Linked DNA regions of Homo sapiens: region 1 is linked to region 2. Evidence: fine-mapped expression QTL. A gene starts in region 2. The other region holds a variant in brackets. All regions are shown on one strand. Distances are from middle to middle. Region 1 overlaps NEURL1 (neuralized E3 ubiquitin protein ligase 1). Region 2 holds the start of NEURL1 (neuralized E3 ubiquitin protein ligase 1).

Region 1 (8,323 bases), 80 kb after region 2:
GCTTCCAAAGCTCTTGCGCTGCCCAGCCATTCCCGTCTTGTCTCCTTGGTGAGGACAAGGTGAACTCCTCCTCATGCCACCCTCTCCTAGTGAGCCTGGCAGGCAGGAAGCTGCTCTAGAGAGACCCGGGGGCTCATGCACAGGGTGTCTGGCTGGCCTGGGGCTTCGGAGACTGCTGTCTGGGGCCTCTGGAGAAGCGGGGATTGGAGATGCAAAGTGGTACAGAGGGATGCAGACCAAAGCCAACACAGAGGGCTGGGCCTCTCCCTCTCCCTTTTCTTCCTGTCTTCCATCTCCTTCCTGGAAGCTGCTCCTCCTCCTCTAGGGAGTGAAAGGGTCTGGGGAGGCAGGCCCAATGCCGAGCTCTTTGCATCATTAAATTCCTGCCTTGGAGGACCAAAATTTGAAACATCCCAGAAGGCCTCTGTCACATTTTGTGGCTTTCTACGGCTCCACCCTCTTCTCCATTCTTCACGGTTCTGTTTCCCCACGATGACAGGATGGGCGGGCTCTACTTGGGCATGGATCTTGGGGGCCCCACCAGAGTCCCCAGCCCCTGAGGCTGTGTATTAATTAATGCTGCCTGTGCTGCTGAGACTTGTCTTGGAGCCACAGAGTAGAGGCCGCCCATTGTGCCAGAGAGGGAAGTGTTGTCTTCCCCAAGGTCACAGAGCCAGTTAGTGACAGCCCCGAGGACAGGATCCATGTATGTTTCATGTCTGTGTCTCCAGTGCTCAGGACAGAGCTTGGTATTCAGCAGATATGTCATAAATATTTATTGAATAAAATAAACAAACCAAGGATGGTGGAGTGCCAGTGAGTGGTGGTAGAGGGTGGTAGTAAAGGTGATGTGCTACCATGGTAGGTGGTGAGAGGCAGAGGGTGGTAAATACTAGTGGGGAGAGGAGGTGGGAGAGGGTGGGGGTGGGAGGTGATGGAGAATGCCGAGGTGAGAAGTGGTGGATAGTGAACCAGTAGAGCATGGTGGCAGATGGTGGAGTGGGAGATGGTGAGAGATGGTGGCAGAAGGATGGTGGCAAGGGGTGGCGGCAGTGGTGAAAGAACTGGGCTCTGGGTGACTTCTGGTCATGCCCAGCCTCTGCCCTTCCCTAGGGGACTCTGGTCTGGCTCTTGGACCCGCCAAGTTCTCTGACACCGTGGCCTGTTCCTTTGCAGACTCTATCGGGGGCCCCTTCCCCGTCACTTCTCACCGATGCCACCACAAGCAGAAGCACTGTCCGGCAGTGCTGCCCAGCGGGGGGCTCCCAGCCACGCCGCTGCTCTTCCACCCGCACACCAAGGGCTCCCAGATCCTCATGGACCTCAGCCACAAGGCTGTCAAGAGGCAGGCCAGCTTCTGCAACGCCATCACCTTCAGCAACCGCCCGGTCCTCATCTACGAGCAAGTCAGGCTGAAGGTGGGCCTGCCCCCTGCCCCCGCCCCCGCCTCCTGCTTCCTGCTCCCCTCATGGCATCCCCTGGGCCTCTGGACTCTGCCCCTCAGCCGCTGCCTGCTGCCACCCCCAGCACCACACCCTGCCCCTGCCTTTCCTCTCTGGTGACCCTCTTCCCTCTTCCTTATGCCTTTCTCAACCTCCCTGTGTGACAAGGAAGGAACCGGGAGGGCGGTGGCCGTGGGAACCCCTTGCTGTCTTCCCAGCAGGGAGGGCTCCTGGGAGGGAACTGTGCTGGAATGGTGGGCAGGCTGCTGTGGGATGCTCCAGGGAGTCCACCGCAGGGAGGCTGCCCTTGGTCTGATTGACCAAGTGGGAGAGGGTGGGCTGAGGCCACCCCCTGCCACCCAGATCACCAAGAAGCAGTGCTGCTGGAGCGGGGCCCTGCGGCTGGGCTTCACCAGCAAGGACCCGTCCCGCATCCACCCTGACTCGCTGCCCAAGTACGCCTGCCCCGACCTGGTGTCCCAGAGTGGCTTCTGGGCCAAGGCGCTGCCTGAGGAGTTTGCCAATGAGGGCAACATCATCGCATTCTGGGTGGACAAGAAGGGCCGTGTCTTCCACCGCATCAACGACTCGGCTGTTATGCTGTTCTTCAGCGGGGTCCGCACGGCCGACCCGCTCTGGGCCCTGGTGGACGTCTACGGCCTCACGCGGGGCGTCCAGCTGCTTGGTGAGTGCCTGCCCCTCCGGCCCCTTGGTGCAGGGGACACCCCTCAGCCTCTGGGCACTGCAGCCTGGCACTGTTCAATCCCATCAGGCGTAGGGACCCCTCTCTGACTGGTGCCAAGGGGAACCGGGGCAGCCCTGGGAACCTTGGCATGAACTGCAGAGATCTCCTTTCCTCCAGGCCCGTGGCTTTGCAGTGGAACCTGGGTGTGATTTCTGCTCTCTGCAGCCTCTCAGGTGGTGCCTTGGGCAGTATGCAACCTTCACAATCATAAATGGTGACCTCAAAGACCACCACCCCAGGAAGTAATTAAATTAATCATCACAACCACAGTTCATAGAACACTTACTATGTGCAAGGCACTTGATTCTTGCCTGTTCTCATAGCAACCCTGGGAGGGAGACCCCTTCATTGGGCAGAAACTCAAGTCCAGGGAGATTACATCATGGTCCCAGGAGCCATGGCCGTTGAGGGGTAGAGCCAGCCCTGAGTCTCCAGCTCTAAAGCCAGCTGTCAGCCCCTGGGCTTTGCAGCCTTCCAGGAGACGGGGTTCCAAGCCCACCCCAGTGCCTTTTGCAGGGATGTTGGATAAAAGGGTAGGATCCAGGAGCAGAAGGCACTGGGGGAGCTAAGACTCTTGGCTGCTCCCTGGCCCCCAGCGTAAGTTAGGCTCTTTGAGGACAGTGAGAGAGCAAGGAGGAGGAGCCTCGGGAAGCAGCCTGGCATGCTCAGGGGCCAGGCTTCCCTGCAATGGCACAAGTACTGGGGCCGGAAGAGGACAGGAGAATCTCCGACTTCCTAGGGTCACACAGTAAGTTGGTGGTTAAGGTAGGACTAGAACTCAGGTCACCTGACTCCCAGCCCAGGATCCTTCCCACCTGGCTCTCCTTGTGCACAGGCACTCAAGTGCATGTGCGCACACATAGACTCTGGGTACAAATCAGGCCATCGGCAAACTGGCTTTGTCTCCAGGCAGAGGCTATGCAAGCCTCAGCTTCCTCAGCTGTGAAATGGGTTGGTGGGAAGATTAAGTTCCATCAGGGAGGCTGTGAGTAAAGTGCCCAGCACAGTCTCGGGTACCAAGTATATGCTCAAGCAACACTTTTTCCTTCGTCTCCCATCTCTACCCGCCTCTCCCTGCAGAGAAAGAGGCCATGAAGGTGGTTGAAAACCTTTTTTTTTTTTCCCTTTCTGACTTCAGAGCCTAGAAACAGTGAAGTTCTTCTGTCCACAACACTTTTGAGCAAAAAGTCAGTGATAGTAAAAACAAAGAAATGAGTCAGAAGCCTGTTTGTTGAGTTCCAAACATCAGGAAGCTGTTTTTATTAGCTAGTAGTTTGGGAACTTTCTGTTTTTCACCTCAACAAAAGTGTTTCTGCACTCACAATGACATGTTAAGAGCCTGGAACTGGGCAGTTCTGGGTCTCAGCGACTGAAGAAGGGAGCCCAGGTGCTTTGCATTTTCTCTGTAAAAGGGGTGTGCCTGCAGCCGGGGGCAGAAAGGGCAGCGTTCATGTCCCTGAGCTACAGAGACCGGCAGATCCTAGCCTCACGCTGTACTAGTTGTGGGGCCTCAGTTTCTTCATCTGTAACGTGGGGCTAAATGCTTTCTCGGGGTTCTTTGAGGAGCAGCTGATGCACAGTAGGGGGTCAGTGGCTGTCATTTGTCCCCACCCATTCTGGGGAGGACAGTTCTTCACTCAGGGCTCAAGTGAATGCCTTGGTGCTGCTCTGGTATCCTCAGGGCCCCACACTTCAAGGCACTGGAGTCCCAGCGCTTGAGTTTGAGCTCTAACCTGACCACTTCTGCCTGAGCCTCAGGCTTCCCACCTGTATAATGGTTGTGAAGGCTTTGACTTAGCCCAGGACTTAACCACATGGTGGAAGACAAAGTCTCTGCTCCTGAGAAAGCCACAGTCTTGTTGAGGGGTGGGCAGGTGAGGGCAGTGGGGCAACATTCTTGCTTTTCCCTAAGCAAAAAGTGGCCTCCCTCACAGTCCCCACTCTGGCTTCAAGGCCAGTCCCAAAGCCCCCTCCCTCCCTGAAACCTTCCTGGGCGGAATTCTTCTCTCCATCTTTGTGTGCCACCAAGTGGTGCTGGTGCTTCTCTCAGTACTGAGCATCGCAGAGCCTTGGTCCGTCCATACGTCCACTTCCCTGCAAGATGGGGAAGAATCCACGTCTCACTCAGTCGGGCTGCTCTCCAGAGTGGAGGCTTCTGCCTGACCTGCAGAGGACGTGGAGGAATATTTGCAGGGTAGGTAGGGGAGAGTAG[T/C]CAGGGGCAGGGTGGGGGACGAATGGGAGGGCAGATGCGTTGTTAGATGAAGAAAACGGCAGGTGGGTGGGGGCCAAGGGCAACCCAGCCCTGCCCACAGATAACCCAGGCTCATTGGGAAGTTAGGGAGATGAAGCAAACACTCCAGACGATGCAAGCGCTCAGGGCACAACCCAAGAGAAGCCAGTAAATCACTAACCGCTGTGGTCATGGGATGCCTTCCATCTGCCGAGATGGTTTCTATCCAGTTATCTCATTTAACCCCTCTGAAGCAGGCCCCACAGGGAGTGTTTTTTATCCCCATTTGGCAGGGAGATAACTGAGGCCCACGCAAGGCCTGGCTTGCCCATGTAGGGATGTGGCAGAGCTGGGACTTGAACTGGGTGTTCTGATGCCAAAAGCAACACCTTTCCCATTACCCTCCAGCTGGTTTAAACATAAAAGGAGGCAGGAAGTCAGAGGAGGCTGAGGTCAGTGGGGGAGGATGGAGGCCAGGAGGGCTTCTTGGAAGAGAAGACTTGGGCTGGGCCTACAAGTTCCAGGAGGGCCCTGGCACATGGGAATGAAGTGGAACACGACAGACGGGCTTCCCACCCTCAGGGGCTGAGGAGGGCTTGGAGAATAATCTGAAGGGCCCATCCTGGGCCAGAGCCCAGGTGGCCTGACCTGGTCCAGCCCCATCCCCCCTGTGACTATAAATGGGTTTGCACGCAGTGTTTTCAGTTGCATTTGGAGTTCCTGACAGGCTCCTCTCTGCACACCCGATAAGGCTAAGGCCCCAGCGGATTCCGTCCCAGCCGTAAATCACCATAATCCCTGGGTATTTTCAAACACTGATTATGGCCCCTAAATTCAATTGGCAGATTGAGATATCCCTTCATTTATTCTTCCTGAATTTTTTTTTTTTTTGGTAAAGAGAGAGAGGGAGACACAGAGATTCATCCAGAGATCTCCTGAGGTGGGCGTGATCTCTCCACCTTCGTTCACTGCCTGTCCTCTGAGATACTCCCCTCTACCCCAGGTAGCCTCAGGATCAGCTTCCTTCCCTGCCTTCTCTTTCCTCTCCGCCCCACTTCCCGCCCCTCCCTCTCTCCATCACCTGCACCTTTACTGCACCTGTATCTTTCTGGGCTTTTCTCTCTCCCTTGACCTAGATCCTCTCACCCTTCTTGCTTTCCCTGGTCTTGGTGTCCTTCTCCCCGCTGCTGTCTCTCTTCTGAAGAAAGTCGCTGTCCATCTTGGTGGCTCTGAGGCTGGGCCAGTCTTTCCTGGGGTGACTGTCCCCCAAACCAATGTCTGATCTTTGGGGATTTTCTGCCAGGCCTGCCCCTGCCCCCTTTGTCTGAAGCCTGTGGTCAAAGCCCTCCCAATCTTACCTGCTCTGTGTTTGTTCCTTAGACCAGAGGCTTCCCAGGGTAGCTGGCACATAGTAGGTAAGCAGGTCAGGCCATGGATGGGTTGTGTCCCCAGACAGAGTGGAGGCAGGGGCTGGTGTCTCTCCCCAGTGGACGGTCCTCCCTGCCCTGGCCAGAATCCAAGCCCACAATGGTGCCCATGCCATGGCCCCAGCAGGCCCTCCTCCCTGTTATGGTGCCCATGCCACAGCCCCAGCAGGCCCTCCTCCCTGTTATGCTGGAGTTCTGCAGATCACCTCTTTCTTTGGGGCGCCCTGGCCCAAGCCCAGGCTGGTATCGTCAAGAATAACAGCTTCCTTCCTCCAGGGAGAAGGACCCGCCAGCAACTAAATAAACACAGGTTTTATGGGGTGATTAATACATGGAAAAAGAAGCTCCTATCCCAGTATCTCAAGGTCTCCTTGCTCCTCTCAGAAATGTCAATTCAGGAAGAGCAGCTGTGAGTCCCAGCAGGACTTGGCTGGCGGGCCAAGAGCCCACTTACAGGGTGCTCCAGAGCATCCCTTGGTGCCTACCACTGCCTAGGCACTAAGCGGGGGCAGGTGGGAGACAGAAGAATCAAAAACCCAGCCCCTCTCCTGGAATAATGTTTTCCCTGGGGGACACATCATATAACTGATGCAAGGTGGCCCAAGTTCAATTCTGCAATCAAGTGTGACCTGAAGAGTAAAACTGTGTGTATGTGTGGGAGGGGAGTGCAGCTAGAGAGCAATCCAGGAGGACTTCCTGTAGGAGACAAGTTTTAAGTCAGGAACTAAGTGAGGTGAAAAGAATGGATTGGTTGAGGAACAATTTAGGTCAGACAGGGGGGTGTCCACAGGTGCAGAGGTGGGGAATTGGCGGTCAGTAGGGGAGCAGATCCAGGAGGGGAAGGAATGAGGTAGAAAGGTAGTGGGTGACTTGTGGAGGTGAGGGGTGTGCACAGGTGTGGGTATGTGTATGCATCACAGGGGAGAGAGCCATGAGAGCTGAAAGCTTCCAGCAGCTTTTGTGCTGTCAAGTTGTTCAGTAAGAGGGACTGGCTGGTTGACAGTGGAGAAGTATGAGACCCAGAGATGGGGAGAGGCCTGCCCAAACTCTCCCAGCTGCTCATCAGCCAGGCCAGGCCTGGAACCCAGATCTCTCAGGCTGATCTGGGAGTAAGGTCAGAGGGAGGAGGCTATCAACACATCTAAATGGTGGGGCTGGGTCCGGGAGGGTTCTAGGAGGGGATGAGGTGGGGGCTCCCGAGGGCTTATGCATTCTATTCCATCCCTTGCCATGCACAGGTTCCCAGGTCTTGGTAAAAGACCCACGCCTGCCTACTGAGGAGAGAGCTGTATGGAGACTCTCAGGATGGGCTTCCAAGGGTCATGTGCTGCTGGGTGGGTTCTCCAGGCCCCCTGGAGATAGGGGCCTAGGTCAGGTCCCCTATCCAGGGTGTGCCTCAGCTTGGAGGTGCTGAGCATGAGTGATCCCCAGCCGAGGACCACACTGCCATCTGGGCCTTCTGCTTCCCAGGCTAAACCAATATTTACCCTCAGCTGTGGCTGCTAGGGGCCAAGAGGCAAATATTAGTTTAAGGAGCCTGAGCCAGCTGTTGGGCTGGGGGAAACAGCTGAGGCTGCCGATCATGATTTCTTCCTCTTTGATGATTTTCATTTCTTTTTGATTAAGAAAAAAATCTTGCTTTTCCTTCTGCTTCAGAGGGTTTTCTGGTGCTTCCTTTCTGCTTACCCCAAATTCTGCCAGCTATATCAGTGCCCCACACCAAACCCTCCCCTCCATTAGGAAGCTTTCCCAGACCTCCCTCATTCAAAATGACCCTTCCTCCTCCTGACCATCGGAAGCACTTGGAGACCTAAGTGGTATAAGCAGCTTTGAGTCATGTATTGTCCTGCTCTTTAAAGATCCAGCATATATCCTCTTTGTATATAAAGGAAGGTATTATTGTGCCCATTTTGTAGATAAGGAACAGAGGCTGAGAGAGGTCTGATAACCTGCCCAAGGTCACACAGCTGGCAGTTGGTGGAGCTGGGATTTGAACCCAGGAGCTTGGGCTACATTACCTTCCAGCTTCTCTAGATGTGAGTCCATCTGATCTCCCTATTAGGTCTGGATACCCGACAAGAGCGGGGACAGTGGCCCTCCTGTGCCTTCCAGAGTCGAGCTTACAAGAGCTCAAGGCATCAAGGATCAACTGCACATGTTGGGCACAGATAGGCCACCAGGGCCCCAGCAGTGCTGGTACAAGGAAGAGGGGCAGTGCAGCGCCCAGGATGCCAGATTCAGTGGGGAAGGTCGGTCTGCCTGCCTTATAGTTCCCCGGAGGCTCCCGAGGGCTTTGTCTGGTTCAGTTATTCCTGTGCACTCTAGTTTTCTACCACAATGAATATATATCAAGTTGAACCATATGTAATCACCAGTATTGGACTGTTTTTAACTTACAAGAAAGGCAATCTCATGTTTGCCCCTAGCATCTCTTGGGCCCAAGAGATTGTACTGGGGCCTTGGAGAGAGTGGTGGGGCT
Region 2 (8,323 bases):
AGGAGGCTGAGGCACGAGAATTGCTTGAACCCAGGAGGAGAGGTTGCAGTGAGCTGAGATCATGCCACTGCACTCCAGCCTGGGTGATAGAGTTAGACTCTGTCTCAAACAAACAAACAAATAAACAAAACCCAAACAAAATGAAACAATGGGCTGGGACTTGGGGAATGGGAGGGTGCTACCTGTGGTAGCCAGGGATAGTTGTGGCTGTTTCCCATTTTAAGGTTAATTTCTCTGCCTGGAGGGAGGTGTCATGCCATTGACTAGGGTGGTCTCAATTCAGGGGAGTCCAGCTTGGCCTAGAGGCGCCCCACTTTTGTCTGCCTGAGGAAAGGTCATCACTCTGGTTGGTTCTGAACTCAGTATCCAGAGGCTCAGGGAAGGGAGTAGACTCTCAGTTAAATATGCTATTATTTTATCAACGCGGTAACTCTTCAAGACTTGAATGGATCTGGAAGCTATGGAGAGAGAGAAAGAGGAAGGGAGGTAGAGAGAGGCGAACCAGGCAGGAGCGGACAGCCAGGGTGGGAAGAACAGAGGTTGCAAGGAGAGAAAGTGACCAGGGTGGGAAGAAGCAGAGAAGGAAGGGCAGGGGGAAAGACGAGAGGGGGTGGGAAGGGGGTAGAGAGTGAAAGAAACCAGCAAGGGCCAGGTGCGGTGGCTCACTCCTGTAATCCCAGCACTTTGGGAGGCTGAGGCGGGCGGATCACTTGAGGTCAGGAGTTAGGGACCAACCTGGCCAACACGGTGAAACCCCATCTCAATTAAAAATACAAAAATTGGCTGGGCACGGTGGCTCATGCCTGTAATCCCAGCACTTTGGGAGGCCGAGGCGGGTGGATCACGAGGTAAGGAGATTGAGACCATCCTGGCTAACACGGTGAAACCCCATCTCCACCAAATATGCAAAAAATTAGCCGGGCGTAGTGGCAGGCACCTGTATTCCCAGCTACTCAGGAGGCTGAGGCAGGAGAATGGCGTGAACCCAGGGGGCGGAGTTTGCAGTGAGCTGAGATCGCGCCACTGCACTCCAGCCTGGGTGACACAGCGAGACTCCGTCTCAAAAAAAAAAAAAAAAAAAGAAGGAAAAAAAATTAGCTGGACATGATGGTGTGTGCCTGTAGTCCCAGCTACTCGGGAAGCTGAGGTTGGAGAATTGCTTGAACCTGGAAGGTGGAGGTTGCAAGATTGCAGTGAGCTGAGATCGTGCCACTGTGCTCCCACTGGGCAAGACTCTGTATAAAAAAAAAAAAAAGAGAAATCAGCAAGAAGAGAGCAACAGGGAAGGAAGGGAAGGTGGGAGTGGAGCTGCTGTTGAAGGAAGCTTCCTCAGGTCCCTGCCTGGGGCCTCCCTCTCCTGCATGCCTGTGTGTGCACTCACAACACCTACGCATGCACATACAAGGACACAGGTGTTCGCGAAAGTGCACACGTGTGCACTGACACCCACCCCCTCAGGCACTGCCCGCAGAATCTGCACTGCTGGGTGTGTGGGTGTTGCCACGGTGACTGGTGCTGGAGCATCACCTTGTGGGTATTAATAGCTTCCCCTGAAGCCATCAAAACAGTGACTTCATCAGCCCCAGTCTCCCTGGCAGTTTCCTTCTTCCTCTTCCCTTCCAGGATGGGTCTGGGAAGGGTCTTCTGGATCAGAGCCACCACCCAGGCACCCCACCCCTATGAGCTGCCTTGGGGAAGGATGGCAGGAAGGCCTCTGAGTTCTGCCCAAGGTCTGGGGGTAAGGAGACTGCTGGCCTTCTTTAACCCTCTGAGCTGGGTCTACCCTAAGTCCCTGCCAGGGAGGAGTTGCTGGGGCACAGGACTCCTCAGAAGGGCCACGCTCAACTTCTCTGAGTCCTATGCAGCCACACCAACCTCCTCTAGGTCCCTTCCTGGCCAGAGACCTAGTTGACTCTAACAGTGGTGTCCCCTCTTCCAGTACAGAGCTCCCTGAAGTACTAGGGTGAAGGTAGAGAGGGGCCTAGGGCGTGAAATATAAGAGGACCTAATTCCCAGGCTCGCGCAAGTGCAAGCTTGGTATCTGCATGAACTTGAGAGTTGGCGCCTTCTTCAATTTTGCGCCAGGGATGCCTTGGCTACCTCATCCTATCCCAGCCCTATTGATACTCCCATCAGCTCCTCAACCCTCAGTTCCCTGCCTTTGTCCCTGACGCCTCTCACCTTCCTTTGGGACTCCCTGGGATCACGCTGCCCTGAACTGCAGAACCTGGGCTGCCTCTGGACTCAGGTGAGCATCCGCCTCTGGCCTTCACTTCCCTCCTTCCCTTTGACGTCTTCCTCTCTCCCCTGCTTTGCCCATAGCCCCAGGTCTAGGCCATGTGGGGCCTGTGACATCCCTTTGTCAGGCGCGGTGGCTCATGCCTGTAATCCCAGTACTTTGGGAGTCCGAGGCAGGTGGATCACCTGAGGTCAGCAGTTCAAGACATCCCTGCTGTGCTCTACCTTTGGGGCCTCATCCCCTCCCCCATTCCCCTGCCCACACCAGGCTTCCCTGGAGCCACCGTCTGTAAATCCTAGCTAGGCCCTTGTACTTCAAACACACTCTAGCAGGATGAGTCTCAACTATGCAGAGTCCTCATATTTGTTCTAACTTGTGAAAGGCCTGATTCTAGTGGCCACTCACAGTGACTTCATTCCGGCAGATTTCAGGGGGAATATAAGTGTGTGTGCTTGTATAGGTGTGAGTGTGTGAGATAGTGTAGCGGTGTGTTAGCACATGTGTGAGTGTGTTGCCATTAAGAGCCTGTGGATTTCTGATGCATGAGTCATTAGCTGGGAGTGAGCCTTGGGAAGATACTGCCCATAAATAAGACAGCCATCCCTGACCTGCTGTGGCCATCTGCAGCTGCCTGCACACGTGATCCTGGGCATCTGGGAGGCTGGAGGCCGGGTTCGGGGCTGCCTTTCCCTCCAGATTCCAGAGAGACAGTGGCTGTCACAGATATTTCTAGCTTGCCTGGAGTCCCAGACATTTAAGGGTAGAATGCCTGGAATGGGGATGGAGAGAGGAGAGTAGGAGAGGAAAATAAAGGGTGGTTCAGGAGGCTCTGCCCCCAGGGATCTCAGTGGAGCCTCCTGGCCCACAGTGGGAAGCATGCATTCCACAATTATTTTCTGAGAATCTGTCACATGCCAGGCATTCCCCCAGTGGGTAAGGACACCCTGGTGAACACGACTGACCTGTGCTCTCCCCTCACAGAGCTTATGTTCTAGCAGGGAGGCAGAAGATAAACGAGGAAAGGCTACTTGTAAACAAGTTCCATATAAAAGCTATGATGAAAATAAAATGGAATATTGTGGAAAGTGACTGACAGTGGAGGGGGTCCTTTAGTTGGGGCAGTCAGGGAATGTCAGGACACGAATTGTGCCTAGATAATGAGGAGCTGCCAAATGGAGACTTGGGGGAAGAACCTTTATTACAGAAAAGGATACATGAGATGTCCCCCTGCCCACCCATGTCTTCACTGGACTCTGGATCTGAGTTGCTGAAGCCAGAGCAGGGAGCTAGAGATGACTTAGAGGAGCAGGAAGTCTGATTCCCTGGGGGGAACCTTGGAACATCTTCCATCCCTGATAGACCAGGAGAGATGCCCCGGGTCCAGGAAGGAGAAGAATGACTTCTGTTTCCCTTCCTGAAGGCTTCTTGGTGCAGTGTTGAGCTACAGGAAGGCACTAGCCACATGAGCAGGGCCCTTGCTGAAACCCCCTTCCTCCAGGAAGCCTTCTTTGACTGCCATAGGCTGCAGAGGCTCCTCTCCCCCACCTTGTTATAGCTAACAGAACCACTCAGTTCAGAGCTGGTGGTCTTCTGATGATCTGTCCCGGAGATCTGTTCCCTCAGCTTGGCCAGAGCTCCAGGCTTGTGAGTCTGGTCCGCGGGCATTCAAAGGCCCTCAGTGGCATCTGTGCATCAGTGAGACTGCCCGGGGTTCCTGCTCTGAACCCTTGCCCTAGTGCCCCTAGCCTGGCTGAGAACGGAGGGTCAAGTGCCGGGGTTCTAATCTCAATTACTTTATCCAAGCATCCGCTCGCTCATTTACATGTTTCCCTGGGCTCTCCACTCTGCGCCAGGCCCGGTACCTGGAGCTAGGGAAACCGAACATTAGTGCTGGCTCGCCCGCCCCCGCATCCGGGGAGCTCGGCGTTCTCGCGGCCCTGCTCCCCTTGTTTTCAAGTGCAAGTTCCATGTTTCCGTGCTGGGAATAAGGCCAGCCCCGGGTGCCACCATACTCGCCTGATGTCTTACCCCGACCCGCGCCGCCGAGAGCTTGCGGCTACGGGAACGCGGCGCGCCCCGGGGCCACATCTGGCCTAGCGGGCGCGCGCGTGTCACTAAGACGCTCATTCACCGGCGCAGCTGTCACCATAACAACCGGAGCGAGGGAATCCTGGAGACTGCCGGGGCGGGGGGCGGGGGCGGCGGTCGCAGGAGGGACCCGGCGCGGGCGGGACCGCGGCGGTCGGGGGACACCAGCTGCGTCGGAGCGCCCAGAACGCCCCGCGCTCCGCCGAGCCCCGCTCCACGCAGACCCGCGGGCGGGAGGGAGCCACGCACATCGCCGCCGCGGCCGTCTCCGCGGGGCGGTAACCGAGCCTGCCTCGGAGCCGCCGAACGCCCACGCCAGCGACCCTGACTCTATGGCCCCGGGGGAGCGCGCCGGAGCCGCCGCGCCGCCCACCCCCAGCCGGAACCCTAGCGTCCCGGGGAGCAAGCGGGGAGCCCCGGGCGTCCCCGGCCCCGGCCCAGGGCCCTGCTTGTGGCCCCCGCTCCCGCCACGGGGCATGGGAGGCAGGTAGCCCAGCCTGCGCCAGGACACCCGTGGCGGGCGGAACCCGCCAAGGACCGCGAAGTCCAGAGAAAGGAAGCTGAGGAGCTGCCCGCCCGCCCCCGGCTGCAGCCCCAGCAGGGCCCTCCCCCGGTGGCGCGCACCCGCGCGCGCACACTCGCACACCGCACCTCAGCGCCTGCCCGGCCTCGCCCCCACCCGCGAGCGCCGAACCTCCTGGGGCCGGATGCCATGGGTAACAACTTCTCCAGTATCCCCTCGCTGCCCCGAGGAAACCCGAGCCGCGCGCCGCGGGGCCACCCCCAGAACCTCAAAGGTAGGCTCCCCGGCCGAGCGCTGCTGGAGGACTGGGGCGCAGGTGGAGGGCCAGGGAGGTGTGGTTGGGGAGGGCGGGCAGACGCCACCTGTTGTGCGTGTCTGGAGGCCGGAGATGCACCTCTGGCCGTGGAGTGGGCTGGGGGTGGAGGGCAGCCGGCGATGATGGTGATGGAGGATGGCGTCCCGCGGGGTCTGCGCAGTTCTGTCTGCTGGCACTGGGAACGTCACTGGAGTCCCCTCAGGCCATGGTCTTAGGCGAGCCTGAAGAGATGGGAAAGGATGTTTGCCAGGTCGATAGGGGAGTGGGGAGTGAGGAGGGAAGCTTGGGTCGTCCGTGTCTCCAGGGAGGCACCTCGATGGGTCTCCTTTCCATCGGCCCTAGGGCTGGAGAGACCAGGCTGGGAGCACTAGTTGCATTTCCAATGGGAGGGTTTTAAAAATTCAGGACAGGATTACAGCAGCCTGGAAGAAAGGGTCAGAGCTGCTGGTTCCTGGGGTCCTTTGCAGCCGTTGGGTTTTTGCATCCATTGAATTAGTTTGATTTCTGGTTTTCCCAAAGACCAGATATCCAGTCAGAGCCCTAGAAAAGAGGGTCTGGGAGCCTTGAAACAGAGGGACATTTACTAGGAATGTCTTTGCTCTTCACCTCCCCAGATCCACTCAGCACCCTCAGGGTGGCCCTAGGCCCAGTCTCCCCATTCGGAGCCTGCCATTCCTGTCTTGGATCTTCCAATGCTGTCTCTGACCTTTGGAAGACACTGCTGGGTCCTCCCGGGCCCTCAGACCCTACTAAATTCCTTCCGGAAGGTGCTTTTCTGTCACCTCAGAACCAGTGGCACTTGTCCTGGGCATGATGGCTAAAAGCCAGGAAGGGAAGCCCTTGGGCTTTCAGAAAGAATACCCCACTTCCTAAGCTCCTCAGGTTATGAGAAGGATAACAATAGTGCCCTTTAACACAAGGCATCGAACTTTCTCAAACACATTTTCAGTGAGCATGGACACTGCTTGGGGTAGTCAGCAGAGCAGAGCTAATCACACTATACCCATTTTACAGATGAGGAGAACCAAGGCTTGCTTCAGGTTCCCAAAGCCAGCCAGACCTCGGCGCTAGGTGCTAGGCTGTAGACCCCTATCTTTTGACTTGGAATTCTGTCCCTTCTTTTGCTGAACAGTTAACTTTTAAGACCAGGGAAGAGGAGGAGAGATAGGACCACTGTCCTGCATTCTAATACTCCAGCTCTTTCAGAACTTCAGCTTTCACTTGGCTCAGGAAAATCAGTGGATTTGTTGTGTCTTTCTGGAAATTAATATGGCAATACATGTCAAGATACTTTAAAAATATCAATTTGTTGGCAGGGTGCGGTGGCTCACGCCTGTAATCCGAGCACTTTGGGAGGCTGAGGCAGGTGGATCACTTGAGGTCAGGAGTTCCAGACCAGCCTGGCCAACATGGCGAAACACTGTCTCTACTAAAAATACAAAAATTAGCCGGGCATAGTGGTGCGTGCCTATGATCCCAGCTACTTGGGAGGCAGATAGGCAGGAGAATCCCTTGAATCTGGCAGATGGAAGTTGCAGTGAGCTGAGATCGTTCCACTGCACTCCAGCCTGAGCGACAGAGCGAGACTCTGTCTTGCTAAAAAAAAAAAAAAAATCAGTTTGTTGACCTTGTAATTCTACCTTGAGGAATTGATACTAAGGAAGTGGAGATGCAGGAATATATACTTATGGCACTAGGCTAGGATGTTCATGGCAGTGTTATTTATACTAGGTGGATAACCTAAATGCTCAGTAATCATGGTATATATTCTTGGTAGAGTACTATGCAGTGATTACAATTATATTTGTGAAGAATAGTTGATGACTGTGGAAAATGCTCACAGTATAACGACAGAATACAAAGTTGTGAAGACTGTATGATCCCAATTTTGTTTAAAAAGTGGTGTGAATGCAAAAAACCCCAACAAAAACAAAACAAGCAAAAATGCTTGTAAAGTTTCCAAAGGGTTAACAATTATTTCCTCTGGGTATAGGATCATATGGGATTGCATTTTTTCTTTTTTATATTTTGCTCTTTTCTAAAATTTCTATAATAAGGAAGTATTATTTTTGTAATCAGAAATAAGCTATCAGTGTTAGCAAGTATGAAGACTGTTTCTGAGCATTGGAAACAGATTCCTAATGAACCTATGAATATCGTTCAGCTCAACCTTCTCTGCAAGTGAGAATAATGAGGGAAAAGAATAATTATTTGCCCAAATTAAAGTGGCAAAACTTGGCCCTGTCCTTCAGGGGGCAAGGGTTAGCTGGGGGCAGGGGTTAGTTGGCCCTTAATATTCACAGACTATCTTCCTGAGAAGGTCTTGCTCCATCCTTGACTCTGTGGAAACCCAGAGAGCTCCCAACTAATTGCATCTTTTTAATCTAAAATTTGGAATTGTGGGGATCTGAGGTCTCTGTGGCTAGGGTCTTTGGCAGAAGGCAGGAGTGGGGGCCCCATCCACACACCACTGTAGGTGACCATGGGAATTTTGATCCCGCCCCTACTAAGCCTGAAATGAAGGACAGAAGGTACCCATGAAGGCCGCCAGTTGTTGGCTCTGTCCTTCACCCAAGGTCCACTGATCCTCCTTCTCAGCTTGACTTCTAAGGACTTCTTCCCGTCTTTCTACCCTAATAGAGCCATCACCTTTATTCTGTAATTGTTTAGTGTTTATTCCCAATTCTCTTCTAAATGTATCAGCATTGACCTACGAGTCTTCTCTGGTATATCAGTGGTCAGCCAGAAGTTCATTCTAATTGTGTTGGTGTTGACCTGATAGGCTGTGATGCTAACTGCCTAGCCAGAGTTCTGCTGGGATGGCGTCTGTACTCAGCTTGAATTCATCTCTAATTCTTGTCAGTGCTCATCCAGAAATTTGCTGGGAGTAGGGGTGGAGTGACTGTCTTGATTTTTTTCTCTCCTTACATAATTTCAGTCTCTTGATTCCTCACCATTTTAATTAAAACAACTGGAAGGGACCTGGTATAATGGGGATCCTGGGACTGATTGGAGATCTAAGATTGGTCTGGCTGTTAGGCTGACATGACATGGGACATGGGACCCCACCATCGCCTCTCGGGTGATAGACTTTGGTCTTCTTCCTGGGAACACACTGACCCCACTCTGCTGCTGGTGATTCCCACTGGGTTCTGAA

Evidence for each region. PIP is the estimated chance that this variant, and not a neighbour inherited with it, causes the effect.
Region 1: its variant is the best candidate, but not a certain one, in a credible set for the expression of NEURL1 in subcutaneous fat (GTEx, PIP 0.53).

Annotation. Positions count from the first base shown.
Region 1 is chr10:103,569,696-103,578,018 of GRCh38, forward strand. NEURL1 (neuralized E3 ubiquitin protein ligase 1) reads left to right here. Exons shown (of 6, transcript NM_004210.5): 2 at 1,177-1,418; 3 at 1,806-2,127. Among named protein-coding and RNA genes, the nearest start is that of NEURL1-AS1, 56 kb to the left of the region's middle. RefSeq lists an enhancer at 1-104. The variant T/C (reference allele first, on the strand shown) is at 4,400.
Region 2 is chr10:103,489,349-103,497,671 of GRCh38, forward strand. NEURL1 (neuralized E3 ubiquitin protein ligase 1) reads left to right here and starts at 4,357. Exons shown (of 6, transcript NM_004210.5): 1 at 4,357-5,124. The coding sequence starts at 5,040. NEURL1-AS1 (NEURL1 antisense RNA 1) reads right to left here. Exons shown (of 4, transcript NR_120675.1): 3 at 5,213-5,387. RefSeq lists silencers at 1,267-1,336, 4,566-4,715, 4,726-4,855, 4,936-5,035 and an enhancer at 4,702-5,251.